Linked DNA regions of Homo sapiens. The protein of the gene in region 3 interacts with the protein of the main gene of each other region in a pairwise test. Each region holds a gene or a part of one and is shown on either strand. Other genes may lie near its edges.

Evidence for each region.
Region 1: the proteins of LSMEM2 (region 3) and LSMEM1 interact in binary tests that used the Homo sapiens proteins (3 or more experiments, as listed by UniProt).
Region 2: the proteins of LSMEM2 (region 3) and EMP1 interact in binary tests that used the Homo sapiens proteins (3 or more experiments, as listed by UniProt).
Region 4: the proteins of LSMEM2 (region 3) and TMEM143 interact in binary tests that used the Homo sapiens proteins (3 or more experiments, as listed by UniProt).

What each region holds. Positions count from the first base shown.
Region 1 is NC_000007.14:112,483,989-112,491,016, forward strand, and holds part of LSMEM1 (leucine-rich single-pass membrane protein 1), read left to right. Parts: exon of another isoform or gene 1-823; 5' UTR 824-828; coding exon 829-955; intron 956-2,934; coding exon 2,935-3,063; intron 3,064-5,821; coding exon 5,822-5,961; 3' UTR 5,962-7,028.
Region 2 is NC_000012.12:13,192,681-13,199,729, reverse strand, and holds the start of EMP1 (epithelial membrane protein 1), read right to left. Parts: upstream 3,005-7,049; 5' UTR 2,858-3,004; intron 1-2,857.
Region 3 is NC_000003.12:50,282,064-50,288,619, reverse strand, and holds the end of LSMEM2 (leucine-rich single-pass membrane protein 2), read right to left. Parts: intron 2,150-6,556; coding exon 2,036-2,149; intron 1,947-2,035; coding exon 1,758-1,946; intron 1,552-1,757; coding exon 1,418-1,551; 3' UTR 506-1,417; downstream 1-505. Other genes in the region: IFRD2 (interferon-related developmental regulator 2), read left to right, coding at 1-37, 116-211, 349-429.
Region 4 is NC_000019.10:48,339,914-48,346,941, reverse strand, and holds part of TMEM143 (transmembrane protein 143), read left to right. Parts: intron 1-1,587; coding exon 1,588-1,782; intron 1,783-3,490; coding exon 3,491-3,621; intron 3,622-4,132; coding exon 4,133-4,412; intron 4,413-7,028.

The DNA.
Region 1 (7,028 bases), on a different chromosome or scaffold from region 3:
AAACCTTTTAAACTCTTCAGGATTTTCAGTGTTGCTTGCAGTTGTGCTGTCGTTAGAGAATATTACTTTCAATATTTAATAAACCTCAAGCTATTACATAAGTGACCTCAGTCTAAGGGAAACCCAGGTGGAAGAGATCTCAGAGGTCCTGAAGTCTAGCAGCATTCCTCTCTATAGCAGCTAAGTTTGCTAAGATTGTTGTCTTGGGGACTCACAGTCAGCATCTTATGGCTAAAGGAATTGTGTGAAGAGAAGGACTTACATGCCATATGGAGGGAGGCTATAAAAATTGCAATTTTCTATTAAAGCCTCCTGCAATTAGAATGGTTCATGGTAATATTCTCTTTTTTCAGAATGTTTTGTGGCCACTGCTGACTAGCTTAATTTTGTCTACCTAGTCTTCTTGCACAAAGGATTTGAGGCATCTCACCAGAATGTGAACAATGTAATAAAAGAAAAATTTTAAAATTAGTTACAAAATAAAAACAGATCCAGGGAAAATATAGGCAGAACTGAGACATCTGAGGAGGAGAAAAGAGTGTTTGCAGATAAGCAGGGTATACATGGATGTACAATTCTTAAAATTGGGCCACACATTTGACTGTGAGCTTCCTGGCAAGCAAAGCAAAAAGAACGATTACAAAGTGGTCCACAGAAGGAAATATTTTTTTCTGGATAAGCCAAGTTCTCTAGAGCCTTAGTTGAAAATACTATTTGTGGGTGGTTCTTCATAGGCCTGTCTGGCTTCCTGGTGGCTGTGGTTCTTGTGAAGTTGAGTTCACAAGCCCAACCTCTTGTTTTTAACATCAGTGTTTTCTTCCAGGGACAATGACTCATTCTTCCCAGGACACTGGTTCTTGTGGCATTCAGGAAGATGGAAAGCTTTATGTGGTGGATTCCATAAATGACTTAAACAAACTAAACCTCTGTCCAGCCGGATCGCAGCATCTGTTCCGTATGTGTGCTGGGGAAGGCACAGCAGCCCTTCCTAGCTTCTAGGCTACCTAAAAATAGCCACTGCTGACTGGATGTGTGGGTGTGGTGGAGGGGGAGGGGGCATTAGGAAGAGGTTGGCACTGGAAATGTTATTTGTTGTTGGGCAATTTTGCTTTTGTTTTCTGAATACTTGACAGGATTATGGGCTTTCTTGGATCCTACACGAGATTTGAACTCTTGACTTCAAATATTCTGAGATCCTGTGGCGTTTCTGTCCCTGGAAAGGGGTGGAGCCTGCAGAGCTGGACTCCTGGAGGCTGGCTCATCCCTCTCCTAGTGACCATGGCTAGGTTACCGATGGGGACCACTTCCCACAGGAGTGTTGTTTTATAGCAGATTGCTGAGAGAATGCTCAATCCAGAGCATTTTCTACTTACAAGTTACAAATTGTGCAATTAAGGGTTGGAGAAAGGGGGTGGGGGGAGCAAAATAAAATCTGCTAAATACTAAGTGTGTATCTTGCCTCCTAAATATTATAAATGAGCTTTATCAGATCACTCTGAGTGCCATCTTTTCTAGCTTAAATGCTGACATTCAAACACCAGTGTTAATTGCTCACTTGCCATTTGTTTCATATGCACTCTAAACTTACTGTTCCAATTTTATATCTATTATTTCCTGTCTAAATCCTTTCCAAGTTCCTCCTTTTTTTCTTCATTTTAATAAGTTCAAATTTTCATCTGTTTTTATTGCTGTCAGTCTCAATAGCAGTAGAAGTTTAGGTGTCAGCCCTATGCTGTTGCTTTGATTAGGAAGCAAAAGTGGCTGAAGCGTATGGCATAGGATGTACTTATAAGGCATGGGACATAAGCCACCCATCTGTCCATAATCAAGTGGCACAGTGAGTGGGACCAATTCAACGTAGGAGAGTATGCAAAAAGTAATCCAGTGATCTCCACTACCCCAGGTTTCTGCGTTGCTTATTCACTGCAACAAATAATCTGGGTGTTATTAGGCAACTAGATCTTGCAAAACGGTGATTAAATGCAGTCAATTCTTGGTTTGAGTGAACCAAGCTGTCGATAAAATGTAGCTGCATTCTCAGTTCAACTGCAAAGCATTTAAAAGAACGTTGCTTCCAGAGCATATCCATCCAGAAGACAGCTTTAAAAAACCAAAATAGGTCAGGGCCATTTTTGTTTAAATGGATGTAGGCTTAACTGATTATTCCTATAATAAAAGAAGTTTCCAGGGAAATATCCCAGAGCATTCAATTGAGTCTTCCACCCAGCATAGGTATCCCACAACCAGCTCTGTTTTACTCCTGGGTTACTTTGGGAAAGGGTAATAGAACTTCTATCACTCTTAGCCTTTAACTTCTATATTCCCTCTCCCCACACACAAAAATTCATGTTCTGCTATTTCAGTGTTAAGACAGTCTTCAAAGAACTTTCCAAAGAGGTCTAAGGAGATAGCTTAACCCTGCTTATTCCTTGAATACCAATAGAGAAGAAGGTAAATAATTCACAAATTTCTCTGTGCCCAAAGACATTCCTAAAACAGAAGTCACGGCCGGGCGCCGTGGCTCACGCCTGTAATCCCAGCACTTTGGGAGGCCGAGGAGGGCAGATCATGAGGTCAGGAGATTGAGACCATCCTGGATATCATGGTGAAACCCCATCTCTACTAAAAATACAAAAACTTAGCGGGACGTGGTGGCGGGGGCCTGTAGTCCCAGCTACTCGGGAGGCTGAGGCAGGAGAATGGCGTGAACCCGGGAGGCAGAGGTTGCAGTGAGCCGAGATCAAGCCACTGCACTCCAGCCTGGTTGACAGAGCAAGACTCTGTCTCAAAAAAAAAGAGTCACTTTCTAGGCTTGTCAGAGAGAAAGTGGGTGTGTCCATTACTCACGGTCTAACACTGGGGTACTGTTCAGTTCTGCTGACAAGTTGTATGCTGAGCAGTTTTTGTCCTTGTTTTTTGTTTGTTTCATATTAGCTCTAGAGGACAAAATCCCAGTCCTTGGCACAAACTCAGGAAATGGAAGCCGGAGTCTGTTTTTTGTGGGGCTGCTAATTGTGCTGATTGTCAGCCTGGCACTGGTTTTTTTCGTGATATTTCTAATAGGTAAGTACCACCACAGGTTTCTTTTTTATTACTTGTATGCATTTATTCATAGCTGGTTAACTTTGCTCCCACAAAGTTTGCACCCTCCAGTCAATGCTTCCTGGTCATCAATGCTTACATTGAAAAAAGAAGGAATGCCTTGAGTGAACACCACTGGCTGAGGACAGGGTCCCTTGGCCACAAACCCACTGCAGAAGCCCATAGTGCCAGAAGTCCATGAATATGTATGTTAAATAATTCTATAGCACTTTAGTTTCTCACTTGGAGCCTCTAGCTGCCCAATGGAAGGCAACTTATTCTGGTTGATTCTAGCTTTACTTTATCCAATGCCTAGATTTCTCCACTAAATTCAGATCTATAACATCGAAACATTGAGGTTTCGAACTGAACTCGCTCCCAGGTTTTCTCACTTGCATATCATCCTAGACATCAATGAGAAGCACTTGAGGGCTTGTGCAAGGCCCCAGAGACAGTGTTGGAGATGTATAAAGGTGGCTTCTTTCCAATTTGATCCTGTCCAGGCAACCTACTCCTAATATAACCTGCTTTGTCTGCTCTTGGCCTGGGCCATGCATGTCGTGACCTTGAGTGGTGACTCAGGCTTCCCCACCTCAGCTTCTCAGTCAAGAGATCCTTCAAGCCTTCAGCGCCACCCTCCTCTCTGCCTTGGATGTGGGAGGGGTGCTGTCCACCTGCGGTGCTGTCTTCCCGTTCTGAGCGTTGCCTCTTCCCACAGAGCCCACCAGTTTCCTCTCTCATCTGGAATTATTTTGATTCTCTTCCAGATGACTTAAGAGCAGACAGAGCCTAAGGGAAGGTGTCATCTTTGATACCTTTTTGCCTGGGTGCACTGCACTGTCATTTCTTTCACCCTTGAGTGCTTTGTAGCCTTTGGAAGGGCTCTAATTTAATTTCATTCAGGATTAGAGGAGGCAGAGGTGATGATGACGATGAGAGAAGACAGGTGGGCAGAGTTCATGATGACCCTTTCACCGCTTCCAATCCCATTTCCTCCCCCAAAGACTCCTCCCTCCTTACAGCTTGAAGGTCTTTATCTAGCCTCTGGAGAAAAGGGTTGGGACTGGGAGGGAGGGGTCATGTTTAATTGCTTCTCTTGCACCGGGCTGATGACCTTTTGCATTTAGAAGCTAACATGTGTACTATTTTTACAATAGTTGCAAACTTGCATCTGATGATGAATTAGGGGAGGCTTGGCTACTGAACCAGCAATGCCAGAAAGAGCACATGCGCTAGTATTCTGAACCGTTACTCCAACATAAATTAATACTGGGCATGTCATCCTGCCACACCCGCCTGGGGGTAATGACGGAGTTAAACTATTAGGAAATTTTAGGTATGTCTACAGACATGTAAACAACCCTCTGCCAAATTCTTTTTTTCTGTGAGATAAGTAGCAAGATTGAGGGAAATAATACCAAATGCTATATATTGAGTCATTACTCTGTCCCAGACACTGTGCTAAGCCCTTGATACCTCTTTGCTCACAACCTCATAACAACTCTGTAGTGTAGAATCCATTATTATTATTATTATTATTTTTATTTTTAAGATGAAATCTCACTGTTGCCCAGGCTGGAGTGCAGTGGCGTGATCTCAGCTCACTGCAATGCCACCTCCAGGTTCAAGCGATTCTCCTGCCTCAGCCTCCCAAGTAGCTGGGACTACAGGTGTGAGCCGCCATGCCCAGCTAATTTTTGTATTTTTAGTAGAGATGGGGTTTCACCATGTTGGCCAGGCTGGTCTCGAAATCTGGACCTCAGGTGATCCTCCCGCCTTGGCCTTCCAAAGTGCTGGGATTATAGGCGTGAGCCACCGTGCCCAGCCAAATCCATTATTATTTTGGTTTTACCAGTGCTGAAACTGAGATTTAGAGAGATCTATTAATGTGCCCAAGGTCACGTTGCTAATAAGTGCCAAAATGGGGCTCAAGGATACTCCACTTGACATCAAAGACTATGTACTTTATCAACATCACTATGTTCCACTTTTATGAATAGCTTTTATTTTATATTTGCCTTGAGTGTTTTTTATTGAGAACAAAGTCATATTAAATGAGAAACAGAAAGATCAGGTGAATAAAGAAGAGTGTTTTTTTACTGGATAATTGCTCTGTGTTAGATACATTAAGTTTATTATCTTAAATCCTTCCTCTAGCCATCTTAGAAAATTTAACTCTGATAAGCAAACCTCAAAGTGTTCCATTCCGTATCTTATTGCCAAAGGTCCTGTGTATTTGGAAAATATTGTTCTTCCATTCTAATGGGTGGTCTGAGGGGGAATTATTACACATTCATTTTGGGCTGGTAATTCAGAACAAGCAGACTTATGTCAAAATAGGCTGGAACCCAAAGAATGTAATTTCTCAAATGAGCAAAAACCTTTTTCTGAGAATGGGTCTCAAAATAAAGCAACATAGCAATCACTTCTGGGAGGATAATCAAACATGCTGACAGCTTCCTTTGGTTGCTCACAGCAAGGTCTTTTTTAGCCATAATTGGTGTGAAGTTGCCAAAGGTAGTCTAGGTTGGCACCAAGAGATTGTAAAAACAATTCACTGGATAGGCAACTTCAGCCTTCACCAGTTTCTCTACTGGGCTTCTGGCATGCATGGATATGGGAACAGGGGATTTGCCAAGAGTGTCTTTCAGCATCAGCTGAGCACCAACATGGGGATCTGATGAATTTCAGTGGAACACAGTGGAAACCAATGTAACACAGTCTGTTTTCTGTTTTGAAGTTCAAACTGGAAACAAGATGGATGATGTGTCAAGAAGACTAACAGCTGAAGGAAAAGACATAGATGATCTTAAGAGAATCAATAACATGATCGTAAAGCGACTCAACCAACTCAACCAACTGGACTCTGAACAAAACTAAAGGAATGATTTTCTGAAAGCACCTGCTAACACCTTGAGCTTTTTACTTTCCTGGGAGTGTACAGGGTTAGGAACTGAGAAAGTGCACTTCCTCAGGCAACAGATGATCTGGTCAGGCAACCCACCCCTGGGGCCCACTTTCTGCAGCAAGATGGGAGCAATTCCAAGGCAAGTGGGTATGGGAATAGCAACTAAAAAGGGGTGAACTTGTCTCAGCCCCCTTTTATGGTAGGGCACTTCAACTTTAATGGGGTGGGCGGCTAGCAGGGAGGAGAATCAACAAAGCAAGAGAACTTGACTATGTACGTCCAACTTCTTACAGAAGGAGCTTTGCTACCAGAACAAGTTCACTGTGTCAATGAAGTTCATGACACCTCATGCACCTTTACAGATATCTGGGAAAGCCTGAGAAATTCATTGAGTTTTATGTATTGAAGGGAACCAGGTGATTACTCTTTTCAATAAGAGGGATTCTGCTCAGGTGATTAGACTTTGACTCTATTTCCCCAGGGACAGTGATGGGTGGGCCCCAGAGCTAGTTGCTGTCTGGTGTTTGCTGGTGAAAACATGAGCAGTAGTTATGTGGGGCTGAGAGTCAAAAGGGAAAGCCTAATTAATTCAACTAATGTTTATTAAGCTCCTACTCTGTGCAAATCACTCTACTCAAGAGGAGCTCACATAAGAGTGCAGGATAAAGAAAGGAGATGGACAGTTATATGTAATTATATAAACTTTGTGTATTTTGTTTCTCATGAAAAAACCCCTTTGGCACCCTGCTGATTGATTTGGAAGAAATCTGATAGATTTGTGGCCTTTCCTAAATTGCACTAGGAAATTATGTAGTTAGAATATTTGGAACCTGCATTAGTTCCAGCAATGAAAGTAAGACACACAGCATATGACATAAGACACAGTGTGAAATAAATGAGTTTAAAAAGCATATGAGTCTTAGAAAATCTTTTATTTAATATAAAAATATTCTACCGGTCAATTGAAGAATGTATTATGATTCTATCATTTTGGATTGATCAAAAACATTTGGGTTTACTACGATATTAAGCATTCACT
Region 2 (7,049 bases), on a different chromosome or scaffold from region 3:
GAATGAGTGTGGAGGTACACACTGAGGTTCTGAGCTCCCCGCATCTGGAAATTTTAAGATCTGTAGGATGGCCATCTGTTCAAGATGGTGTAAAAATTAGATTTCTGCATACAGTAGGAGAATGAATGAGATCCAAGATCCCTCCCAAATTTAGAATTCTGTGAACGAAATGAAGGATGAAATGGAACTGACTTGCCTCCTGCCCTTTCCTGTGTCCACGTTTCAGTTATGTGCCCCACCAGGCTCCATAGAGTCTACAGAAAAGCAGTCTTGCCTCATCCACAAGTTTTCCCCGGTCTTCAACGTGTCTCTCTCCAGTAGTCCCTGTGGGTCTGGCACTACCTGAAATCCCTAGAGCCACCCAGAGCAAGCCAAGAGGGTCTACATTCCCGGGTGAGGGGTCTCCATGAAGCCCACTGACAAGGCTGGGAACTTGATGGGCCTAATCTGGTCTCTGGAGGAAGCAGGAAGGGCTGAGGAAGGCACAGTGAGTCCTTTCCACTCTCCACAGAAGGGATCTCTTTCCTTTCCCCAGCGGTCTGCCCAGCAGTCCTGGGAGATAGCCAGATTCTAAGGATGTGATTTGCTCCAAGTTGGTTCTTGATGGCCTTTTGCCAACTCCCAAGACAGTTTAGTACCCACAAACAATGTAAATGTGGGGGGCCCTCTGACCAGGGCGCCAGACAGGATGTCCTGCAGCCCCCGCCCCCGCCCCATTCTTCGGAGTCTGGGTGGAATTGGATCTGCCCCTGAGGGTGGGAGGCAGCGGGCAGAGTGGGGGGGAAAAATAACCCTCACATTTCGGGATTGTCAAAGCTGAAATCCAGAAAAACTCTCACAGCTAAGGGACTCTTTCACTACTTCTTGGAGGAAGAGCAGAGAGCAGGAATCAGAACGGTATTTTTCTAAATTGTCTTCAAACTCCAGGAAGTAACATGTAGCATATTTTCTCCTTTATAAACCTACAGTATCATGTGAAACCTTGCCACAAATAATGCAGTTCATGATGGTTTACACTCCCAACATTGTCAGGGCTTTCCGTGTGTTGACTGGTTATTAGTTTTAACCTGCACAGAACTAAAAGATTTGTATAATTTTCACAGGATATTAACACTATTGATTTAATAATGGCTAATCCACATCCATGTAATGTGGAAATAATAAACATGTGAAGCAAATGTAGGAGTTCCCTTCATCTTGAAAAGTTGCCCTGATGCCTACTCAATCGTCCCCCTTGGGGCAGTTTTACAAGGAGCATTGCCTGCTCAACACAGGGTTGATTACATGTAACTTCTCTCCCAACGTACTGCCTTTCTAAAGGAAAAGCCTAACTTTGTCAGACAAGCTGAATCCTGTCATTCTCATCTTGTTTACTTGGGGAAAAAATATACCAGTGTCTATGTTGAAATGGGCCACACCTCGGTAGACACTCACCCAAAATGCTAACCGAAAAAAAGAAAAAAAGAAAAAAAAGAAAAAGCACCCTTCTTCATTCCTCCAGATTTCATGATTAGCATGAGTGTTTGCATTTATACAATCACATTTCGGGAACAAGAGAAAAGATAAGCATTTCAAAACAATCACTGCCTTCCATGCAAAGAAATTCCACATCCACTTTCTTTTAAAAGTTCTTTTATCGTTTCTGGTATGCCATCTTTTCACTCAGCACTGAAAGGCAGCTCTTTCTGGGGTGAAAGCACAAAGCCACTCAACAATTTTTAACAGGCACAGATGAAGTTCTCCTGCCCCACCCTCTTCTCCAAACCCAGCTTCCCTTTTGCCTCCCCCGCCCTCCACATCTGGCCAAGAGAAGGCATCTGGAATCCTCATCAGCTCCTGCTTCGACCAAGTGAACCCCTCCCACGTTTCATTTAAAACACCATTTGCCTCCCTCTCTTTCTCTCTCTAACAGTTTTCTTTTTTCATTTTTTTTCTTTTTCTTTTTTTTCCTTTTTGAGACAGAGTCTCACTCAGCTGCCCAGGCTGGAGTGTAGTGGCGCAATCTCAGTTCACTGCAACCACCATCTCCCGGATTCAAGCAATTCTCCCGTCTCAGCCTACCAAGTAGCTAGAATTACAGGCACCTGCCATCATGCCTGGCTACTTTTTGTATTTTAGTAGAGACAGGGTTTCACCATGTTGGCCAGGCTTGTCTTGAACTCCTGACCTCAGGTGATCCGCCCGCCTCAGCCTCCCAAAGTGCTAGGATTACAGGCATGAGCCACCGTGCCCGGCCAACAGTTTTCTTTAAACAAACCAATCCCCCTCTTCCCATCCTGTGAGGAGAAAAAAAATACTTAAATTTAAACAGAAGTGAATAGGGAAGCAAACAGGCAGGAAAAGCAATGTCAAAAATAAACTGAAAACCAGTTATCTATCCACCACCACCCAAAAAATCCCAACCAACAACCAGCGAGCAGAGTAACAGTTCAAGTCCTGAAGCAATCGGAATCAAAACGGAGGAGGTGAAAAACATCTGGCCAGTTCCCGATGTCATTTCCAAGGTGTGTGGTGTTTCCTCCATAAACAGGATCCTATCCCAGTTTGTTTCAAAGTCCCTGCTCCCTCCACATCCTAGAACAAGAACCCGGTCACTGCCAGGCACGATTTTAGCCCCATCCCATTGATTTCCCCAGACTCCGTCCTCAAAATACACTTTTCTGAACTTTCTAGAAAAAGTTGTCTCTGTATCCACTTTGAGCCAAAAGTTTCAAGGACTTGGTTCTTAGAGGATCATAGAAAAATAGCGAAGGAAGAAAAGAAAAAGCAAAACTAAGATGAGGTCAGAAGAAGCAGAGCCGTGGAAAGGAAGGAGAAGTTTTGCTGAGAGTCCCCACAGCGTTGGGAGCTGTCCTACCTGAAGGGTCCCAGCGACAGAGGCGCTCTGAGTGGCAGGTGCTGGCAGCAGCCCTGGTCCGCTCTTCTGGAAGTATGTGACCGCACTGAGGGGAAGGACCTGCCTCCCGAGGTTATAAGTTTCCTCTGCTGGTGTACTGGGGTGTGTAATGGGCGGTTTCTTTTCACCGTGTTTTAAAGGAGTTTCTATGAATCAGTCTGGCTTTAAAAAAAAAAAAAAGATTTGTTGGTAAGCTACGCCCTGCTAAGCTGGCAGTCAGTCAAGAGTGGCTGGGAGTGAGCCATCAATTCAAAGAACCCTGTTGTAGGCTCTCTCTGACTCAGACACACAGACCACAGTGGAAAAAAGGAGGGACATTGCTTCAAATGAGTAACAGGATCACACAAATAGATCTGTTTACTGAAGCCCATTCCTCCTCACCAAAAAGGAGACTTGGTTACCATGGACATAAGGCAAAACACAAGGTTTCAGCCTGGGAGGGGGAGGAAAGGGGCCAGTGTCCTGCTGACTGAAGTCCTAGGTCATCATCAAGCGAGATTCCCAGTCTTCCTCCCCCATTAAAAGCATCAGCTGCTGCTCACTGTCAGGAATTATCAGATTCCTTTTTTTATTTACTTCCCTGCCTGACCCTGGTGCACTGTCCTGTGGGTGGCTGTACAGGGAGGCCCTGAAGGCGAAGGGGACACACTAGGAGCTCTTGCAGCCCTGCCTCTGAGTGATGGAGCACTGATTGAACAGCAGAGAATTCCTGGTCTTTCATTATGCTCTGCTAGTGCCCGTGTGGACTCTCCACATTCCAGGAGGAAGTCCTCTAGTTAAGAACTTTGCTCTCTGTAATAATCAGCTGGACCTTGTTCTACAATTGACTTTCTTGAACTTGGCCAGTAGCATAATCATCCCTACTACCTCCCTGCACCACTCCTCTCTCTCTCTCAACTCTGGAGCTGGGAGAGGCCTGTGAAGTCATCTCATCCCACAGCCCAGGCATTCCACTGGAGAGAGTAAAAGCCCAGATGCCTGAGTTCAAGCCCAGCTCTCCACAAATTTGCTGTGTGACTTTAGGCAAACCACTTAACTTCTCCATGCCTATTTTCTCATGCATAAAATGGAGATGGCAGGTATGTAACTCATAGAGCTATGATGAGAAATACACATATAGGGGCTCATGGCAGTGTGCATAGTGAGCGCTCAACAAATCTTAGCTACAAGGATTATTTTACTGAAGAAGCAGCTCAGGCCCAGAGAGGTGAAGTGACTTATTCAAGGAGATACAGTACGTTACCAGTAGCAGCTTGGATCTAGGTCAGCACATCCAAGCAATTCTATTTCTGTTATTCTCTGCTGCACCCTGACAACTTATTTCAATTCAAAATATGCGTGTGTAGTATTTATTCATTCATTCTGCCAATACAGGCTGCACGTCAGTCTTCACTGGGCCTGATTCAGAGCACTGAGTCACAGAAGTGAATGACATCCCTGCCTCTTGGAACTTATATTCCCTAAAAAGATAGAAAACAGACTGGTGGCTATTCACCAAAATGTTGATCAAATTCGATGATAAAATTATGGATGCAGTTTAGTTTGTTCTGGTCACAATTCTGTATTTTCCAAATCCTCTGCAATGAACCTATATTACTGTCTTTAGGATGTTGGCATGTGGATGGATGGATTTTAGGAAAAAATATTTTAACATGGGAATGTGGAGAATATTTTCTAAGGTGGATGATAAGGAAAACACAACACACACACACACACACACACACAATGATTTGATGATGCTGCATCTTCACAAGTCCCTGAGAACTGAATTCTATCTCTGTAAAAGTAAGAAGGTCTGGATTTTCTCACTGAAAACTGATGACGTGATAAAAGACTGCATGTTTCTCATAGAGTTCCTCACCTCTCCCCTCTCTCATTGCTCATTTGATAATAAAAATGCCTGTCTGAGAGGGGCCACTCCCAGCAGTGGGTTGAGAGTCCCTGTGATCTCTGAGCATCCCAACCCTCAGGGAGGGGAGGGTGTCTGCAGGTGAGGCCAGGAAATCCCCAGGCATGTGCTGGCGCTCCAGATGGGCCAGTCTCCCCTGCTGGAATCGGCCTGTCTCCCTGGCCTTTTCCTACTCTCAGGGTTGCCTTTCACCCCTGATGCCCTCTGCCAGTTTTAAAGTCTCTCTTCCCTCAGCTGCCTGGAAAGGAGAACTGGACTCCAGAGGAAGTGTTCTCAGATGCTGAGGAGTATGTGGTCTGATTGCATTTCTTAAAGAGAAACCTGGAGCCAAGGAATAGCAGAGGGGAGGCATTCTCCCTCCCACCTCCTTCTCGGGCTTAACAAGGGGAAAAATCAGGAACTTTTCTTAAAGTACTTGAGTAGAGGAATCCTTCAGTCTATCTGGATTTCCATGGATTTCACAAAGAGAGACGCTGGGCTCAGGGACGGGCTTCAAAACAGGACCCAGAAAGCAGGAGGCCCAGTTTCCACGCCTACTACCTGGCAGTGGCTGTGAGCGAGGCATCTGCCTGCCTCCATTTCACCTTAAAGTGAGTAGACAGCATCACCTTCCAAATGGGTCTGATAAATCTCACCTTCCTGTGTGCTTTTGGAGATGTCTAGGTTTGGAGAGAAAATATTAAATGCATTGAGCTGTGAAAACACACCCATGCACACATGCAAAAACACATGCACGCACACACACATGCACACATGCACACACAGAGTGGTGCCATAGAAAGCCAAGTTGTGTAAATATTTTTAAAAGATGAATGCAAGTCCAGGATTTCTAAAGACTTATAATTAACCCTTGAAATATCACTGAGCTTATTTTATAAAACAAAGTTATCCAGTCTGGGAAAGCAATTGGATCTGTTCTGGCTGAAGTTCTAGCTTTTTGTGCCTCTGGATGTGATTAACTCGTTAAGCCTGAGTGTTCCTTTGGCTATGAGCAGACAATTTTGAGACTACAGACAGTAAACGGTTCAGGGCCTAAAACCACATGGGGCTGGAGATACAGCTCCCCTGGCGTTTATATGGTCTTTCCAAACAATGTCGAGTAAGCTGCCTTTCTGCTCCCATTTCCCCCATTTGGAAGGTAAATTAGACACATTCATTTTCTGCATGGGCAAAGAACCGGACAAAGTTTCATTTGACCTCACTCAATAAAGCCATATATTCTTGGGAGGGAATGTCTCTCTCACCCAGTGCAAATGTTACTCCAGCAAAGGGATATTTTCCCCTTTTTCGGAAGCAACAAGAATCAACTTCTGGCACGTTGCCATTTGGGGCAGATTTTCAAGTTTGAACCGGCGTAAACATTTTAATGAATGCATGAAACGAAGGCTTTTAATGACTGATACAAGAAGTCTACTAAGGCAGGTCTGGCCCCTACAGCCCACAGAAAAGAAAACTAATAATAGCTTGAACTTGTTTTTGTTCAAACTCAGTTAACCGAAAAGAATCCCAAACTATGCAACATGTTCCCCAAAGCTATTATATGAACAGGGATGTCAATATTAATATTAGCACACACTGCTTGGAAGGTAAATAGAATGGGGGAAAAAGTTACACAGTATCTTCCCAAGTCAAAGGAATGTTTGTTCCTCACAACTCCTCTTTGAAATTTGAGAATTTACCAGAAATGTTGTATTCCTTCCCTTTCCTTTCTTTCTTTCTCCAACTCTCCTCTCTCTATTTCTCTCTCAGGCTTTCTTCTGGCTTTCTTTATGGTTTTTGGGGGTGTTTTTGTTGTTTTTTGGGTTTTTTGTTTGTTTTTGTTTGTTTTTTTGAGACGGGGTCTCGCTTTGTCACCCAGGCTGGAGTGCCGTGGTGCAAGCTCGACTTATTGCAATCTCCGCCTCCTGGACCCAAGCGGTCCTCCCACTTCAGCCTCCTGAGTAGCTAGCACTACAGGCGTGTGCCACCACACCTGGCTAATTTTTTGTTTTGCTTTGTTTTTGAGACAGAGTCTCGTTCTGTCTCCCAGGATGGTATGCAGTGGCACAATCCTGGCTCACTGAAGCCTCTGCCTCCCAGGTTCCAGCAATTCTCCCACCTCAACCACCAGAGTAGCTGGGCTCAGATAATCTGCCCAACTCAGTCTCCCAAAGTGCTGGGATTACAGGTGTGAGCCACCACACCCAGCCCATTTTCTTCTGGCTGTTATTGCTTTCTTTCTTTTTCTTTTTCTTTTTCTTTCTT
Region 3 (6,556 bases):
GGAAGTGCTGGGTTCGGGCATGCACCACCACCTCCAGGTGCGGGGACGGACAGGGAGGGGACATCTGGTGTGGTTGCTTCAGTCTGGCCTGAGCTCACTGCCCTCTGCCCCCCAGAACAATGAGCTACTCCGTGACATCTTTGGCCTGGGCCCTGTGCTGTTGCTGGATGCCACTGCCCTGAAGGCCTGCAAGGTTCCACGCTTTGAGAAGGTTTGCACCCTTGGGCACCTTTCTCTTCCCCCTATTCCCATTTCCTGGAGGCCTGGAATTCTGTAGAGGCCGGAAGAGGACCCCCAGCCCTTTCCCTTCCCAGCTCCCCAGGGTGTCACTCTCTGTCCCCACTCTAGCACCTGTACAATGCTGCTGCCTTCAAAGCCCGGACCAAGGCTCGAAGCCGTGTGCGGGACAAGCGGGCAGACATCCTGTGAAGCAGGACCTGCTGAAGAGGAGACTTTCTATGCCCTTGGTCCGTATTTTTAACAGAAGACAGTGCAACAACTGGTCTCCACCAGTATTTGTCACTTTATTTTTTTTAATGACAAAACCAAAAACAGACATGGGGTGGGTAGCTGGGGGCCCGGACACTTGGGACCCTGACCCCTTTGTCCCTGCACTCAGCCCTGTGGCCCCTTCCTGTCCTGTCTCAGGCCAGGCTAAATATGTGCCTTCCTCAGGGCTGTGGGGCAGGCACTAGGGGGCCTTTCCCTTCCTTTCCTTTCTCAGGCCTTGCTCCCCCAGGATGACCCACTCTTAGGGGGGTGGTGGCATCTGGACAAATGCCACCACAGCAGGTGGGGTGGCAAAGCTACCTGGAATGGATTTGTGTGCTGATTTTTAAGGATTATTACAGATAATTAAACAGAACGGTCAGCCTTCTGTGGTCTTAACCCCTGGGTATTTTTCTGTTCTCCCTCCCCATCTACTATCCCAGGCTTGGGCCCAACTGGTCTTCCACGATGTCACCTTTGCCCTCCAAGGCAGTCTTCCCCAGGTGGTGCCTCTCCCCCTACTCAGAGCCCAGCCTGTCTTTAAGAGCTGAGGCTGGACCCTCACTGGGAGCCCTGGCAGAGTTTGGGTGATTGCTATGGGGGCAGCTATTTCTAGACTTCAGAACCTGCCATCTGGGGTGGCCAGAGAGTGTTGACAGGCCACAGGAGGAGCCAGGAGGCTGGTGCCCCTTCCCCTGACCTTGGGCCACCCAAAGCGAGGCTTTGGCACCAGAGGCTTGGCTAGGCCTGGCTTGAAGAGATCAGGAGAGGGAGGCAGCCATTAAGTTAACAACAGGTTCTTGTACAAAAATCTCACCAAGGAAATAGTGTAGATGTGGCAGCCAGCAGTAGGGAAGGAGAGACCTGCCCATAGCCACTTTATTCCCCCACCAACACACACCCCCAGGCCCCAGATCCAAATGGCATCTCAGCTGGGTGCTTGGGCCTCACTGGAGTTGAGCCTCCGAAGCTGGCTGAGGCTGGCCAAGCGGAGTTTGAGTAGTGTCTCCTCCTGCGTGCGGAGCGTGTGTGCCAGGATGCGCAGGGATTCACTCTGCAGCACTGTGAATGGGAAGTGGGGGATCATCAGACCATGTGCCACCCCGTGACCCCTGCAGACCCAGCCCAGGACCAGGGGCAGCCACGGGCCTCCCGCCCCATCCTTCACTGCTGCAGCATCTGCAGTTACTCCTTCCAGCTGCACAGAAGGGCCTCCCAGTCCCCACTGCCTTGCTTTCCATTCCTACTAGCACCCTATGCGTCCATACCGCTCAGGTAGACAGCCAGGAGTGCGAGCACTAGGCAAGTGAGCACCAGCAGCGCGAGCAGCAGCAGGAACCCTCCTCGTCTGTACACAGGGCTGCAGCCAGCCTGGGCACACAGTGACGGCGGCAAAACGCCCAGCAGCTCATCCCACGGTCGTGCCTCTTCAGTTAGATAGGGGCGCAGTGTGCCTGCTGGGTGGATGGGACATTGGGAGGGTGGTGGGTGCACCTGCTTTCGTCCCCTCCCCCAGCACATCATCCACCCCACTGTCCCCACTCACCTCCACTATGTAGGTCGCTGATGGACTCCACCTGGTGCAGGCATACCTCATGCACGTGGTTGGGGGCCAATGGCCCCCTGCTCCTCTGGCTGGGCATCATTGGCGCCACGGAGTCTGCAGGGGCAGCGCAGGCTGATTTAGCCAGTGGTGGGTCAACCCCCTTCCTTCTACCAGGTGGCTTCAGGCAGCAAGGACTTGCGGATGATAGGGATAGTGGGACATTTGGTTCCAAATCCCCTAAAACTGACTCAGGAATTACCCTTGATTTGGATCCAGGATGATCCCAGACCCTTACAGGCTTATTCTGTATACAGGAGCAACAGGTACATTTGATTTGTTTCCTTCCAAGCACCCCAGGGACTCACTCAGGCATTCCTCTGCCTGCTTATTTCTAGCAGTTTATCAGCCTTGAATGCTAAACCTGCAGCAAATGGAATTCAGTCCTGCCTCTTTTGTCAGTTCTCCCTGCAGACCCAATGCCTGGCATCTTCTGGTCAGAAAGCCCTATTGTAGCCACTCTGGTGCCTTTCCCTCCTGGCCTTGGTTCTGTGTTTGTTAACATACTCAGTGTGACTCTGCTGTACATGTGTGAACCCTGCTGTTTTCATTCAACATTTACTGTTGGGGAGACCCTTCTTTGTTATACTGTTGCACATGCCTCTGAGGTCTCTCCCTTCACACATCTCCCTGAGGCTGCCTGGGCATCTAGGTTGTTTGCAGTCCCCGCCCCCCTTTTTTTTTTGAGACGGAGTTTCGCTCTTGTTGCCCAGGCTGGAGCGCAATGGCGCGATCTTGGCTCACCGCTGCAGTTCCCTTTTGAAATTAACCCCCAGGACATCCACCGTTGAATATGAAGGTTTTTTCCCAATTTCCTGATAGTTTAATTCCCAGAAGTGGAATTACTGGATCCAAGAGCAGGGATTTTTGTTTGTTTGTTTGTTTTTTGAGATGGAGTCTCCCTGTATTGCCCAGGCTGGAGTGCTATGTCGTGATCTCGCCTCACTGCACCTTCCACCTCCTGGGTTCAAGCGATTCTCCTGCATCAGCCTCCTGAGTAGCTGGGATTACAGGCGTGTGCCACCACGCCCAGCTAATTTTTGTATTTTTGGTAGAGATGAGGATTCACCATGTTGGCCAGGCTGGTCTGGAACTCCTGACCTCAAGTGATCTGCCCGCCTCGGCCTTCCAAAGTCCTGGCATTTACAGGCATGAGCCACTGCATTTGGTCGTTTTTTGTTTTGGTTTGGTTTTTTTAAGATGGAGTCTCCCTCTGTCGCCCAGGCTGGAGTGCAATGGCAAGATCTCGGCTCACTGCAACCTCTGCCTCCCGGGTTCAATCAGTTCTCTGCCTCAGCCTCCTGAGTAGCTGGGATTACAGGCGCCTTCCACCACACCCAGCTACTTTTTATATTTTTAGTGGAGATGGGGTTTCACCATCTTGGCCAGGCTAGTCTTGAACCCCTGACCTTGTGATCCACCCACCTCGGCCTCCCAAAGTGCTGGGATTTACAGGCGTGAGCCACCGTGCCCGGCCTGTTTTTTTGTTTTTGAGACAGAGTCTTGCTCTGTTGCCCAGGCTGGAGTGCAGTGGCGCAATCTTGGCTCATTGCAACCTCCACCTCCTGGGTTCAAGTGATTCTCCTGTTTCAGCCTCCCAAGTAGCTGGGATTACAGATGTGTGCCACCACGCCCTGCTAATTTTTGTATTTTCAGTAGAAACCAGGTTTCACCATGCTGGCTAGGCTGGTCTCAAACTCCTGACCTCAAGTGATCCGCCCGCCTCAGACTCCCAAAGTGCTGGGATTACAGGCGTGAGCCATCGCGCCTGGCCTGAGATTTTTGTTTTGTTTTTGAGACAGATTCTTACTCTTTCACCCAGGCTGGAGTTCAGTGGAGTGATCACAGTTCACCGCAGCCTCCACCTCCTGGGCTCAGGTGATCCTCCTGCATCAGCCTTCCCAGTAGCTGGGACTACAGGCATGCACTACCATGCCCAGTTAATTTTTTTTGTATTTTTTGTAGAGACAGGGTTTTACTATGTTGCCCAGGCTGGTCTCGAGCTCCTGGTCTCAAGAGATCCATCCTGCTTGGCCTCTCAAAATGCTGGGATTACAGGTGTGAGCCACCATGCCCGGCCTGATTTTTTTTAAAGCTATTACCAAACTGTCCTCCAGAAGCACTGTCCACAGCTCCCCCGCAGGGTATAATATTGCCACCATTAGGCATCCCCATAGGAAAAAAATTATATTTACATGCACACGTGCACACATATATTTGCTAACTTGAGAGATGAGAAATGGTCTTTCTTATTTTATTGGGTTTCTTAGCCTAGGGAGTGTGACTAATACGTGTGTGGCGCTTTTTTTTTTTTTTTTTTTTTTGAGACAGTCTTGCTGTGTTGCCCAGGCTGGAGTGCAGTGGTGCGATCTCAGCTCACTGCAACCTCCACCTCCCAGGTTCAAGCAATTCTCGTGCTTCAGCCTCCCAAGTAGCTGGGACTACAGGCACCTGCCACCATGCCTGGCTAATTTTTGTATTTTTAGTAGAGACCAGGTTTTGCCATGTTGGCCAGGCTGGTCTCAAACTCCTGACCTCAAGTGATCCACCCGCCTTGGCCTCCCAAAGTGCTGGGATTATAGGCGCAAGCCACCATGCCCAGCTGTGTGTGGCTTCTTAATTATCAATTTGAAGCCTCTGCCCATTTAGTCACTTGGGTCTGTGTACTTTTCTTTTGATTTTAATTATGTACTTTCACACTCATTGAAGTTTTTGCTTTTTGTTTGTTTGTTTGAGACAGAGTCTCTGTTGCCCTGGCTGGAGTGCAGTGGCACGATCTGGGCTCACTGCAACCTCCGCCTCCCGGGTTCAAGGGTTTCTCCTACCTCACCCTCCTTAGTAGCTAGCACTACAGGTGTGCACCACCACACCCTGCAAATTTTTTTTTTTTTTTTTTTTTTTGAGATGGAGTCTCGCTCTGCCGCCCAGGCTGGAGTGCAGTGGCACGATCTCGGCTCACTGCAAGCTCCGCCTCCCAGGTTCGTGCCATTCTCCTGCCTCAGCCTCCCAAGTAGCTGGGACTACAGGCGTCCGCTGCCATGCCCGGCTAATTTTTTGTATTTTTAGTAGAGATGGGGTTTCACCATGTTAGCCAGGATAGTCTCGATCTCCTAACCTTGTGATCCGTCTGCCTCAGCCTCCCAAAGTTCTGGGATTACAGGTGTGAACCACCGCGCCCGGCCAATTTTTGTATTTTTTGATAAAGATGGGGTTTCACCTTCTTGGCCAGGCTGGTCTTGAACTCCTGACCTCAGGTAATCCACCCGCCTCAGCCTCCCAAAGTGCTGGGATTATAGGCGTGAGCCATCGCACCCAGCCGGTGTTTCGTTTGTTTGTTTGTTTTTGAGACAGAATCTCCCTCTCTTGCCATGCTGGAGTGCAGTGGCGCAATCTCAGCTCACTGCAACCTCCGCCTCCCAGGTTCAACCGATTCTCCTGCCTTAGCCTCCCGAGTGGCTGGAACTACAGGCACGTGCCACCACGCCTGGCTAATTTTTGTATTTTTAGTAGAGACGGGGTTTCACCATGTTGGCCAGGATGGTCTCGATCTCTTGACCTCGTGATCTGCTCACCTCAGCCTCCCAAAGTGCTGGGATTACAGGCATGAGCCACCATGCCTGGCCTTTTGTTTGTCTGTTTTTTTTGAGACAGAGTCTTACTGTGTCACCCAGACTGGAGTACAGTGGCATGATCTCAGCTCACTGCAACTTCTGCCTCCTGGGTTCAAGTGATTTTCCTGCCTCGTCTCCCCAGTAGCTGGGATTACAGGCACGTGCCACCATGCCCAGCTAATTTTTGCATTTTTAGTACAGCTGGGGTTTCACCATTTTGGCCACGCTGGTCTTGAACTCCTGACCTCAAGTCATCTGCCCATCTTGTCCTCCCAAAGTGCTGGGTTTACAGGCATGAGCCACCGTACCTGGCCAATATTTAATTATATTTTCTTCTAGTTGTTCTTTAACTTGATGTCTAAAAATCCTGGTCCAGATGCCAAGAGCTCCAGATACCCACCTGGAAGCTGATAACAGTAGGGAAGAGCATTGAGGGGACACCTCCAGATAGGAGCAAGGGTGGCCTTGCACTCTGGGACTGTCATTCTCAGGACAGTAACTCAACCTCCATGATTTACTTGAAACTGCCTCTTGACGTGCTCAAAAGCAAGTACAACAAAAACAAGCAAGTGCTGCCAGTCATTATGTCTGGGTGGTGGGTTGAAGGTCATATTAAATTCTCTCTTTGGGCCGGGCACTGTGGCTCATGCCTGTAATCCCAGCACTTTGGGAGGCCAAGGCAGGAGGATCATTTGAGTCTAAGAGTTTGAAACCAGCCAGGGCAACGTAGGGAGACCCCATCTCTACAAAAAAATCAAAGATTAGGGCCGGGCATGGTGGCTCACACCTGTAATCCCAGCACTTTGGGAGGCTGAGGTGGGCGGATCACGAGGTCAGGAGTTCAAGATCAGCC
Region 4 (7,028 bases), on a different chromosome or scaffold from region 3:
TTTACAGCCTCAGTAAGTTCTTCCCAATGGCCATGTGGATACTGGTTGAAAAGTAGCAAGAGTAGGCCAGGTGCGATGGCTCACGCCTGTAATCCCACCACTTTGGGAGACTGAGGTGGGGGGATCGCTTGAGGTCAGGAGTTCGAGACCAGCCTGGCCAACATGGTGAAACCTCATCTCCACTAAAAATACAAAAATTAGCCAGGCGTGGTGGTGGGCACCTGTAGTCCCAGCTACTCGGGAGGCTGAGGCAGGAGAATCACTTAAACCTAGGAGGTGGAGATTGCAGTGAGCTGAGATCATGCCATTGCACTCCACCCTGGGCAACAGAGTGAGACTCTGTCTCAAAAAAATAAATAAATAAAAAGAAAGTAGTAAGAGTAAAAGTTGGGGAACAGAAGCCCTACATAATTGTTTAAGTGAGAGATGAAGGTGGCTTCAGTGAGAAGATAGCAGCAAAGGAGATAGAGAGGAGGGTGGATTCAAGAAGATTCAGGGGTTTAGCAAGTGAACTTGCCAGAGGATTGGATATGGGTGTGATAAGAAAAGAATCTGCTGGGCACAGTGGCTCATGTCTGTAATCTCACTTTGGGAGGCCGAGGTGGTTGCATCACTTGAGGTCAGGAATTCGAGTCCAGCCTGGCCAACATAGTGAAACCCCATCTCCACTAAAAATATAAAAATTAGCTGAATGTGGTGGCATGTGTCTGTAATCCCAGCTACTCAGGAGGCTGAGGCAGGAGAACTGCTTGAACCTGGGAGGTGGAGGTTGCAGTGAGCTGAGATTGCACCACTGTACTCCAGCCTGGGTGACAGAGCGAGACTCCATCTCAAAAAAAAGAGAAAGAAAAAGAAAAAAGGGCTGAGCAAGGTGGCTCATGCCTGTAATCCCAGCACTTTGGGAGGCCGAGGTGGGTAGATCACATGTCAGGAGTTCGAGACCAGCCTGACCAACATGGTGAAACCCCTTCTCTACTAAAAATACAAAAATTAACCGGGCATGGTGGCGTGCATCTGTAATCCCAGCTACTCAGGAGGCTGAGACAGGAGAATCGCTTGAACCCAGGAGGTGGAGGTTGCAGTGAGCTGAGATTGTGCCACTGCACTCCAGCCTGGGCGACAGAGCGAGACTCCGTCTCAAAAAAACAAAAACAAAACACAAAAAAACACAGGCCGGGCACGGTGGCTTATGCCTGTAATCTTAGCACTTTGGGAGGCCGAGGCGGGCATATTGCCTGAGCTCAGGAGTTCAAGACCAGCCTGGGCAACACAGTGAAACCTCATCTCTATTAAAATACAAAAAATATATATATATATTACCCGGGCATGGTGGCGTGCGCCTGTAGTCCCAGCTACTTGGGAGGCTGAGGCAGGAGAATTGCTTGAACCCGGGAGGTGGAGGTTGCAGTGAGCGGAGAACGTGACACTGCACTCCAGCCTGGCAACAGAGCGAGACTCTATCTCAATAAAATAAATAAATAAATAAATAAATAAATGAAAGTATCTGGAGAGGGATGTCCTTAGATGTCCCTAGAATCCTTCATGCAGAGACCTATCCCATCTTTTTCTCTCTGACTCTCCTCTTAGGCCTTATATGACCCCATCAACCCTGACAGGGAGACCCTCGATCAGCCATCACTAACGGATCCCCAGCGTCTGTCTAATGAGCAGGAGGTGCTTCGGGCTCTGGAGCCCCTGCTGGCCCAGGCCAACTTCTCCCCGCTGTCTGAGGACACCCTGGCCTACGCGCTGGTGGTCCACCACCCTCAGGATGAGGTCCAGGTACTTGGCTCCCTAGGAGAACAAAACTCCCAGGAGGCCTCTAGGGTGGGGCAGAGCCTCTGAGAGGCATGGGCTGCTGGGAGTTGTAGTCCTGAGCCTGGGACTGTGGCCCATATGGCGCACTTGGTGAACTCAGAGAAGGGGCTACTTTTGGCTGGATGCAGTGGCTCAAGCCTGTAATCCCAGCAGTTTGGGGGTCCAAGGTGGGTGGATCACCTGAGGTCAAGAGTTCAAGACCAGCCTGGCCAACATGGTGAAACCCCATCTCTACTAAAAATATAAAAAATTATCCAGGCATGGTGGCAGGTGCCTGTAATCCCAGCTACTGGGGAGGCTAAGGCAGGAGAATCTCTTGAACCCGGGAGGTGGAAGTTGCAGTGAGCTGAGATCGTGCCATTGCACTCCAGCCTGGGCAACAAGAGTGAAACTCCATCTGGAAAAAAAAAGGAGGTGCTGCTGTCTCAGGTCACTTCACTGCCATCTGTTGGAAAAGTATCATATGATATGGCTCTCTTAGGGCAAGAGACTTAGCACCATCTGCCAAAATTGTAATAATAAATAATATAATACAAGGCCGGGTTCAGTGGCTCATTCCTGTAATCCCAGCATTCAGGAGGCCGAGGCAGGAGGATCGCTCGAGCCCAGGAGTTCCGGACTCATCTAGGCGACACAGGGAGACCCCGTCTCTACAGAAAATACAAAAATTAGTTGGATATGGTGGTGCGGGCCTGCAGTCCCAGCTACTCGGGAGGCTGAGGTGGGAGGATCATTTGATCCCAGGAGTTTAAGGCTGCAGTGAGCTGTCAGCCATGATCTTGCCACTGCACTCCAGCCTGGATGACAAATTGAGAACCTGTCTCAAAAAAACAAAACAAAACACACACACACAGAGAGACACATTAAAAAAGAAAAAAAAAACCAAGCCCCTAAAAGCACGCAAAATGCTAACAAAATTATAAGAAATACTAAAATCAGCTGGGTGCAGTGGCTCACACCTATAATCCCAGTGCTTTGGGAGGCTGAGGTAGGCAGATCATTTGAGGTCAGGAGTTTGAGACTAGCCTGGCCAACATGGTGAAACCCCATCTCTACTAAAAATACAAAAATTAGCCAGGCATGGTGGCGGGTGCCTGTAGTCCCAGCTACTTGGGAGGCTGAGGCACGAGAATCACTTGGACCCAGGAGGTGGAGGCTGCAGTGAGCTGAGATTGTGCCACTGCACTCCCGCCTGGGTGACAGAGTGAGACAATATCTCAAAATAGAAATAAAAATAAAAACAGAAATAAAAAATACTAAAATCTCCCCAAATTCCACATTTTAGTGATTTTAAACTGCAGTTTTTCCAAAGTCATGTTTTGTCATCTCTGAAATTGGGATGTAATTTACAGGTGGTGGTGTGACATCATTTAATTGGCAACGTATTTTGTTTTTAGTTGCTTCATAAAATAATCAGGTAGAGTCAGTGGCACCTTAGATTCTAGGAAATATGGTAAAGATGACTTCTACGTGAATGGCACTGTGTTAGATCATGAGCCCTTGTGCAGTATACGACATGGACAACCATATGTGACAGCCCTGCCTAGATGGTGAATGGGGATAAGTGGGAAACGGGGGAATTATTTAGGGGCAGGACATCTGATTCTGGTATCCTGCCCTCAACACTCCTGCCCATGTTCACCCGCCACTGCTTCCTTCATCCCCCCGGCAGGTGACAGTAAATTTGGATCAGTATGTCTACATTCACTTCTGGGCCCTGGGCCAGCGAGTCGGGCAGATGCCCCTGAAGTCCAGCGTGGGCTCCAGGCGTGGCTTCTTCACCAAGCTGCCCCCTGCGGAGAGGTGAGGCGGCCCTTGTTCCCCAGCTGCAGCAAGAGGGAGCAAGGTTAGAGTCAAGAGGGGACTGACAGGTCAGTGTCTGGTTTGGGTGTCTGGGCCCCAGGCGGGAAGTTGAGAAATGGGAGGCGTGACTCATCCAAATGCTGTCTTTTCTTCTCAAGGGAAAGTGAGTACTACACTTGATTCCCAGGGGAAGAGAAAGGATGGGGACAGTTCTCCCCATTTTCCAATAAGGAAAACTGAGGCTCGGAGAGGGAGGTCCACATTCTGAAGATGCGGCACGGCCAGGATTCCAACAAACAATCTGCACGTCCAATACCAGGGATCGATGGCGCGATTGAACCGATCCCCTGTGGTTGGACACAGCTGATCCCTGGTTTCTTCCCCATGATTACTGAGTCGCTTTTAAGATGGTTGTGCGACTGTAGAGCCAGAGTGAGCGTCCTAGGATTGGAGGGGGCTCCCCGGGCAGTGCAGTCCCGATCCTGCTCCTGCCTCTGTCTCTGTCCCTCAGGAGATACTTTAAGCGGGTGGTCCTGGCAGCCCGGACCAAACGGGGACACCTGGTACTGAAGAGTTTCAAGGACACGCCGCTGGAAGGCCTGGAGCAGCTGCTGCCGGAGCTGAAGGTGCGCACGCCCACCCTGCAGCGCGCCCTGCTCAACCTCATGCTGGTAGTCTCCGGCGTGGCGATCTTCGTCAACGTGGGCATGGTGGTGCTAACCGACCTCAAGGTGGCCACCTCCCTGCTGCTGCTGCTCTTCGCCATCTTCATGGGCCTGCGGGCCTCCAAGGTGAGCATGCGCCTGCCACGCCTCCTGCGGCCCTGCGCTGTGGGGACCAGGTCAGGCCCCCTGTAGTTGTCTCTGTTTCATGCATTGTTCCTGCGTCATGCTCTCCTCCCTCCCTCCCTCCCTTCCTTCCTTCCCATTCTTCCTCTTTTCTTTCCCTTCCCTTCCCTCCCTGTCCTTCCTTCCTTCCCATTCTTCCTCTTTTCTTTCCCTTCCCTTCCCTCCCTGTCCTTCCTTCCTTCCTCCCTCCCTTCCTCCCTTCTTTCCTTTCTCCCTCTCTCTCCTCCCCTTCCTTTTCCCCTTTCCCTTCCCTTCCTTCTTCCCCTTCCTTCCGCCTCCCCTCCTCTCCCCTCCCCTCCCCTTCCCCTCCCTCCCTCCCTTCCTTCCTGTTCCTCTTTTCCTTCCCTTCCCTCCCTCTCCCCACCTCCTTCCTCCCCCCTTCCCTTTCTCCCTTCCCTCCCTTCTTGCCCTCTCCTCCGCTCCCCTCCCTTCCCCTTCCCTTCCCTACTTCATTTACTCAACACCCCTTAGGGGGGTTTCTTAATCTCTCTGAGCCTCAGTTTTCTCATCTGGAAAATGGGGATGATAGCGAGATCTGCCTTGTAGGGTTGTGAGCATGAAATGAGTGAGTCTGTGAGAAGCACTGGGCAGTGCTCGGCTCGTGGTAGGGGCTACATAAGGGTTGACAGCCGCTCACTGAGTGCCGGCTTTAGGGGCGCTTTAGTGATGCGGTGAAGGGGGTGTGTTCTGGAAGCAGACTTCCTGGATTTGAATCTGACTCTACTCTCTTCTCGCTGTGTGATCTTGAACAAGTTGCTTAACCTCTCTGTGTCTCAGCTTCAAAATCTGCAAAGTAGGGATGATGGTGGGACCTAACTCATAGAGGTGTTGTGGGGATTAAATGAATTAACATGCACAGTGCTGAGAATAGAGCCTCCCACATGGCACAGGAGGTGCTATGTGAGAGTTAGCTATTACCAGGATGATGATTATTATCATTACTAATTGGGCTGTTTGTTCCAAGTCCCCATCCTGACTGGGTATCATTATCACTGGGGGAGCTGGCTGACAAATGCAGCCTCCTGGGCTCCAGTCCTAGTGGACTGAATTGGAAACTCTGGGACTGGGGCCCAGGGAACTATATTTTTAACAAGCTCCCTTTTGATTCTGCTACATGTGAGTGCCGGGCTGCCTTGAACAGTTGCACAGGTTGTTCACCATCCAAGGATTCGTGGCCCAGGGGCCAGGTGGAGGCTGACACCCAACTTGTGCTCCGCTTGCCAAAATGCGTGTCCTGTCTCGAGGCTGAGTCAGCCCAGAGGGGAGCTGCCTTTTACTGATTCTTCCCAGGGTTGGCACCGGCCCCAGGAGTGTAGACTGGTGTGAAGCATCTGTCGTACGCGATCATTCACCTGCTGGCTCATTGGTTTTCAAGCTGTTTTCAGCCATGCTGACAGGCTCTTAGGAAGGCTGGTAATAAATCCCGCAGATAATAGCCAGGCTGTGCCGCCTGAGAGGGTGCTGGCATACTTGGGCCAACAGAGGGGCTGGGGAGGGAGCAATTTCTGCTTGGGACCAGGGCTCAGGTAGGATCTGAGGAAAGCTCTGGAAGACAGGAATTGAGCCTGGTGGAGAAAGAGCCCACGAGCTCAGCCTGGCGTATCTCATGGGGCTGGATCCAGTGAGCAGGGTAGAGAGGGGAAGTCCCAGAGGGTGGTGAGGGCCTTGAATGCCCAGAGTGGTACCCAAGGCCTTATCCTCAGAGCCGCAGGGAGCTGTGGAATGGCTGTAAGCTGCAACCATGGAGGGCAGAGGGGAGGGGCGAGATGAGAGGCAGGGAGGCCCGGTGCCTCTGGGGAGAAGACACTGAGTCCCAGCCCACGGTGACTATTGCCTCACCCCTTGCTGGCCCTTGGGGTGCTATGGAGCCTGTCAGGCTCTGAAAGACCCTATTTCAAACCCAATTCACACCAGGCATGGTGGCACATGCCTGTAGTCCTAGCTACTCAGGAGGCCAAGGTGGGAGGATCGCTTGAGCCCAGGAGTTGGGAGTCCAGCCTGGGCAACATAGTGAAACCCCAAATCAAAAAATAACAATAAAAAAGCCCAGCCAGGCGCAATGGCTCACACCTATAATCCCAGCACTTTGGGAGGCCGAGGCGGGTGGATCACGAGGTCAGGAGTTCAAGACCAGCCTGGCCAAGATGGTGAAACCCCATCTCTACTAAAAACACAAAAATTAGCTGGGCATGGTGGCACATGCCTGTAATCCCAGCTACTCTGGAGGCTGAGGCAGGAGAATCACTTGAACCCAGGGGGCAGAGGTTGCAGTGAGCTGAGATGGCATCACTGTATTCCAGCCTGGGCGACACAGTGAGACTCCATCTCAAAAAAAAAAAAAAAAAAAAAAATCCCAGTTGACAAGTTAATTTAGTGTATTCATGAATTCATGAGGTATTTCCCCACGCCTTGGGGTGAGGCCCAGCCTTTACATGTGGGCCCTTGGCTGGGTGCAGTGGCTCATACCTGTAATCCCAGCACTTTGGGAGGCTGAGGCAGGCAGATCACATGCAGTCAGGAGTTCGAGACCAGCCTGGCCAACGTAGTGAAACCCCATCT